Linked DNA regions of Homo sapiens: region 2 is linked to region 1. The links come from fine-mapping of genetic effects on gene expression. A gene starts in region 1. The other region holds a variant in brackets. All regions are shown on one strand. Distances are from middle to middle. Region 1 holds the start of EXD3 (exonuclease 3'-5' domain containing 3). Region 2 overlaps EXD3 (exonuclease 3'-5' domain containing 3).

Region 1 (2,897 bases):
AACTAGAGATGATTCAACAGGTGACAGCAGTTGTATAAATTAATGACTTCACTGAGACCTCATGTTTGCCACCCTGTAATGCCATTCCAATTCAGTTTGTGGTGTTCTTAAAAAAAAAAAAAAAAAAAAAACTCCCTGAAATGTCTCCTCCTTCCCTGCTTGGCATGGGACAGGACTATGTGGGAATGAGCCTTCCCAGCAAGAGGGGACACTCTGACCCTCAGATTTTGATAATCAATGCTTTCAAGAAGAAAGATTTTGATCAAAAGGGGGGCAAATGAGAAAGAAAAAAATCATTTATCTGAGGAATGTAAAGCCCTTTTAAACTGTGGGCCCAGAAAGCTTGATGTTAAGTGCCAGAAAGCATTTCAAATGAAACCGCAGCCCCTCACTACCCCTCGAGCCAAGTAACTATCCACTGATGACACCAAGCCGTGGTCAATCGCGAACCAATGCCATTTCTACAAGCCAGTGAGCTCCTGGGCAACGTTCGAAACCACCTGCTCTCCGATGGGCTCTGTTTTCTTTAAAAACCTGAGCCTCTGTTTTGTTCTCCGTTGCACCTGGTGACCCAGGCCGCCCTCGACCTCTGTGCCTGAATAAACCCACCGGGCACCACATTCTGACCCTTTTAATTATTTTAGGTTGACAACTAATACAGGACTCAGCGCCGGTGGACAGGAAGCCAGGGCCCCTGCAGGGAGGCGCCCGTCCCTTCTCCCGGGGAGGGCAGGGCGGGCGCGCGCGCGTCCCACCGGGAGCGCCTCCTCCTCGGCGAGGGAGCGAAGGGCCTCCGGGTCCTGTGATGTCCGTGCTCGGAAGGCGCGGAGGAGGGCAGGCCCTGCGGGACAGGGCGGCGGGGTCGCCGGGGTCGGCTCAGCTCCCCGCGGCGTCCGGCTGCTCGGCGGCCTCCGGAGCGGGGCCCTGCGGGAGAACGCACCTTCCCCGCCCCATCGGGGCCTCAGTTTCCCCACCCCGGGAGAGCCGGCGGCCCGCCCCCGGCTCACTCCCAGCTACGGCCCTCACCTCAGGACGCGCACCCGGCCCGGCCCCGCTCTGCCCCCGGCGCCCAGACCGCCCACCTGGCCCGCGCGGCCCGGGGTCGCTCACCTGCGGGGCCGGGACCGCCCCACACCGTCCACGCCCGGCGCGGAACCTTGGCCCGACCGCAGCCGCTGGCCCGGAGGGCTTTATCCGGCGCACCAAGGCCAGCGCGGGCGGGGCGAGGAAGCCGGGCGCACAAAGCTCCCGGCGGAAGTCCGGCCGGGGCGGGGGCCGAATGGGAGGTGGGCGAGGCCTGAGGGTCTGGAGTGGGCGTAGCCGTTTCTGGCGGGGGCGTGGCCTTACCGGGGAGGGGCGGGCGCCTGCCGCCAGGGGGCGCCGCGGGGCAGCGGGGTTGCACCTGGCGCTTGGCGCCCGCACCTCTGCCCGCCTCGGAGACCCCGCAGCCCCGCGCCGCCGCCTGGCCCCGGCCCCGGCCCCTCCGCGGGATCCTGGCCCCTCCTCGAGCGCCGCCACCGGCCGCCATGGCCTCTCTGGGGGACCTGGTGCGCGCCTGGCACCTGGGCGCGCAGGCTGTGGATCGTGGGGACTGGGCCCGCGCCTTGCACCTCTTCTCGGGCGTCCCGGCGCCGCCCGCCAGGCTGTGCTTCAACGCGGGCTGCGTGCACCTGCTGGCCGGGGACCCCGAGGCCGCGCTGCGGGTGAGCGGGGCGTGGGGAGGCCGGTGCGGGCGACGCCTCCGCCTCGAGCCCCTGGGGAGGGCCCAGCGCCCCTCCCCGACCGTCACGGGGTCGCCCTGCCGCCCCCGACCCAGCGAACGCCCCGGCAGGTGGGAGCCGAGCAGGGGGGCCGCACCTGAGCTAAGCGAGGCCGCGCTGGGGGGCGCGGCGGTCACCGGGAGAGGCCGGGGCCCGAGGGTGACTCACACCGGGAAGGGGGAAGCTGCTGGGCTGGGTCAGGCCCGAGGGACCGCCCTGCCCTAAGGGGAAAGCGTTGCGCCTGTGGTCATGGCCGGGAGACCGGGTCAGTCTCCTCCTCAGAGCCCTCAGCCCTCCCCCAGCCCACTCCCCGAAACAGCCAGGAGTCCAGGGTGCCAGGGTGCAGCGGCCGAGGCCCTGCACGGAGCCCGGTGCCCTTCTCGTGCCCCCTCGCGTTCCGGGGCCGCCTGTTCCTGCGCATCCCAAACGCCAGCGCTGCCCACCCCCGCTCAGTCCCAAGCACCCCGCAGAAGCAGGCAGGTGCCCACGGTTACTGAAGGCTCGGTGACAGCAGTGATTTAAAGGAGAGGGAACTGCGCGCTGTGGGAGGGTCTCCACGCCCCTGACTGGCAAAATATCCCCCTTGGAGGAGACTGGGCAAAGCGCATGAGACCCCCCTCTCTTGTGTCTTAAAGCTGCGTACAAATTTACAATCACCTCCATAATGATTTCATTTTTTTGTTTGTTTCAAAGATGGAGTCTCGTTCTGTCACCCAGGCTGAATGGAGTGCCGTGGCCCAATCTTGGCTCACTGCAACCTCTGCCTCCCGGGTTCAAGCAATTCTCCTGCCTCAGCCTCCCTAGTTGCTGGGAGTACAGGCGCCCACTACCACGCCTGGCTAATTTAGTATTTTTAGTAGAAACGGGTTTCACCATGTTGGTCAGGCTGGTCTTGAACTCCTGACCTCAGGTGATCCACCCTCCTCGGCCACCCATAGTGGTGGGATTACACATGTGAGCCACCTTGTCCGGCCCACAATGATTTCATTTTAAAATGTTATCCAAGAAAGGGAATGTAATCTTTAGACACCAGGTGGTTCAGCAACAAATCCTATGTCCGGGGCTAACCCAGTCACTTGTGCTCTTGTGCCTGGTTTCACTACAGAGAGGGGACGCAGTGAAAGTCATACGACTAAC
Region 2 (2,897 bases), 39 kb before region 1:
CTGCCCCAGTGGCCACCCGGGCCTGGGTGCTCTGGCGGTGGCAGGACGGGGCCTCAGGCCTGGCAGTGCTGGCGACAGCTGTGTCCCTGCAGGTGAGTGGCCCCTGCGCCTCCCAGAGGTGACCTCAGAGGGGCTGCTGGGGCCAGGCAGTGCCTTTACCACCCTGGGGACTTGAGGAGGACCGCCCCCTGCCCCACACAGGCCACCCTGGAGGCGGTCTGGGGCAGCAGCTGTGCAGGACCCTGTGGCCGTGGGGGGCTGTGCAGCTTCCTGACCAGGGAGGCCTCCTGTTAGGCCAGTCTCTGCCCAACAGTCAGTTCTGCTGGCTGTGACTTGGCACGTGGTGGCTGCCACGTCCACTCACCTGCTTCCGCTCCCGCGTGGACCACAGGGTCTGCAGGGCCTGCAGGAGCAGGAGGGGGTCCCGGCCTGTGGAGATAAGATAACAGCCGTGGGAGGGAGAGGCAGGTGCAGGGGCTATCGCACAGCCCGCCGGGAAGTCCCTCCCACTGACCCGCAATGCCTGGGGCTCCTCTGGACCCGGGGGGCCGGGAACCCTCCCCCACCTCTGTCTGGCACACACACAACACACCTGCCAGCTGCGGCAGCACCCACCCTGTTCCTTCCCTGTGGCCCGTGGCCGCCCATCCAGCTGAGTCCGCCCAGCAGCACTTCAACCACGCTCAGCCCTGGGAGCTGGGCCTCATCTTTCAGCTGCAGGTGCAGAGCAGCCCTCGTGGGCCTGAGCCTCTACCTGCTCCGCCTGGCGCCCTCGGCAACCTCATCAGCATCTTCTCACCCAAACCCTGCACCGCAGTCCTGGCACCACGAGGACCCCAAGCCCCTGCCCTCTTTAGGTTTCGGTCCCCGGCCCTCCCGCGCCGCCCCCTCCCTCCAGCCCCGCCTGGGAGGCCCCCGACCTCACTGCAGCAAAAGTGCCAACCAAAGACGCTGCCCCACACGGACAGGGCCACCAGAGCGAGACCCGAGGGAGGTTTCCAGACAGAACCCAGGGGCTGCGTGGCTTGGCTTGGAGGCCGGTGGTGCAGGGGAGTGGAGACCCACTCAGGCCTGGTCATGTGGTAGGGTCAGGGTCGGAGGCCAGGGAGGGGCAGGTGCCAGCAGGGACTCCACAGGGGAGGCCTGAGGACAGGAGCCTGGGTGGATTCCGCAGTGAACTCCCCCTGGACCTGGGGGGCTGTGGAAGCTGCTGGGCCCCCCTGCAGGGCAGGACGGGAACAGGGAAGGCCCCGTGTTGCTGCGAGGGAGGCTGAGGACTCACATGAGATCAGATCAGACCTCAGCAGCTGGATTCTGCCACACACGCCAGAGAAGCGTGTGTGACGGGGGTCACCCCAGAGAGCCAGGCTGACTTAACAGGAGAGTCCAAGGTTATGATTCAGCCCAGGACCGGAACGGAGGAGAGAACCACGTGGCCCTTTCGGTAGACACAGAGCAAGTGTTCTAAAATTCAGTTCAGCTCACAATTTAAGAAATAACTCACCTGGGACGGGCAGGGAGCGCCCTGAACTGGGTAAAAGCCATGGGCGAGCGTGAGACGTGGTGCTCAGGGCAGCACGTAAGGA[T/C]GCCACAGCCCGGCCTGGAGCCGTCCCAAGCAGGTGGCATCCAATGCAGAAGGAAAACAGAAACATCAGGACCGGCCGACAATGTGATTGATTACACAGAAAGCCACGAAGGATCAAAACTACGCCGTTAGAATTAACCAATGGGTTCGGCATCAATGCTCAGCACAAGCCAAAATGAGAAAATCAGCAATAAACAGAAATGGCCATTTCAAAAATCACTTACAACAGCATCAGCAATGTCAGATTCCCTGGGAGAAATGTAACAAAAGCAGCTCATGCAAAACAAAACCCAGCCGGCTGTCATCTCAGCACTTTGGGAGGCCGAGGCAGGTGGATCATTTGAGGTCAGGAGTTCGAGACCAGCCTGGCCAACGTGGTGAGACACTATCTCTACTAAAACTACAAAAGCTAGCTGGGCATGGTGGCGGGTGCCTGTAGTCCCAGCTACTCGGGAGGCTGAGGCAGGAGAACAGCATGAACCCGGGAGGCGGAGGTCGCAGTGAGCCGAGATCGGGCCACTGCACTCCAGCCTGGGCAACAGAGCGAGACTCCGTCTCAGACAAAAACCAAAAAACCATAAAACACCGTGGGGCGCCCAGGCTCCACCATGGCGTCTCTGCAGCCACCTGGGCCTGGGTGGCACAGGCCAGTGTTCCCGTCTGCGCTCAGAACCGTCCCACCATCGTGCACAGTGTGCTGCATACAGAGGCTGAGAACACTCAAATGTCCACTGTAGGAGGACGGAGCAAGTGCATCAGCCCCGGGACGATGCCCAGGTGGGGAGGACGTACCCCACCACGTGGCCATGGCAGGCAGTGTGACTGGCCCCGCATTCTGGGTGCTGCATGCTGGGCATGGCTGGCGATGGGGCCAGGGTGGGCTGGGCGGGGCGTGCTGTGGTGTGTTCACGATCATGTGCCGAGCCGCATCATGTGCTCTGCGTTCCTTCCTACACATGGGTTGCACTTCACAATAAACAAAAGAGACTTTTATTTTGTTATTTAAGTTAATATTTTATTTAGAGACGGAGTCTCACTGTCACCCAGGCTGGAGTGCAGTGCTGTGATCTCGGCTCACTGCAACCTCCACCTCTCAGGTTCGTGATTCTCGTGCCTCAGCCTCCGGAGTAGCTGGGAGTACAGGCGCTCACCGCTACGCCTGGCTAATTTTTGTATTTTTAGTAGAGACGGGTTTTCACCATGTTGGCCAGGCTGGTCTTGAACTCCTGAGCTCAATTGGTCCGTCCACCTCGGCCTCCCAAAGTGCTGGGATGACAGGCGTGAGCCACCGCGCCCAGCCCAGATTTTCTTT

What was found.
Region 2: its variant is fine-mapped to the expression of EXD3 in whole blood (TOPMed, PIP above 0.99). The same link has a PIP of 0.9 or more in T cells and blood mononuclear cells.

What each region holds. Positions count from the first base shown.
Region 1 is chr9:137,422,004-137,424,900 of GRCh38, forward strand. It overlaps EXD3 (exonuclease 3'-5' domain containing 3), which reads right to left and starts at 1,159. Exons shown (of 22, transcript NM_017820.5): 1 at 1,111-1,159. It overlaps NOXA1 (NADPH oxidase activator 1), which reads left to right and starts at 1,390. Exons shown (of 14, transcript NM_001256067.2): 1 at 1,390-1,703. The coding sequence starts at 1,527. RefSeq lists silencers at 751-890, 901-1,040, 1,061-1,620.
Region 2 is chr9:137,382,949-137,385,845 of GRCh38, forward strand. EXD3 (exonuclease 3'-5' domain containing 3) reads right to left here. Exons shown (of 22, transcript NM_017820.5): 3 at 365-429. Among named protein-coding and RNA genes, the nearest start is that of EXD3, 39 kb to the right of the region's middle. The variant T/C (reference allele first, on the strand shown) is at 1,587.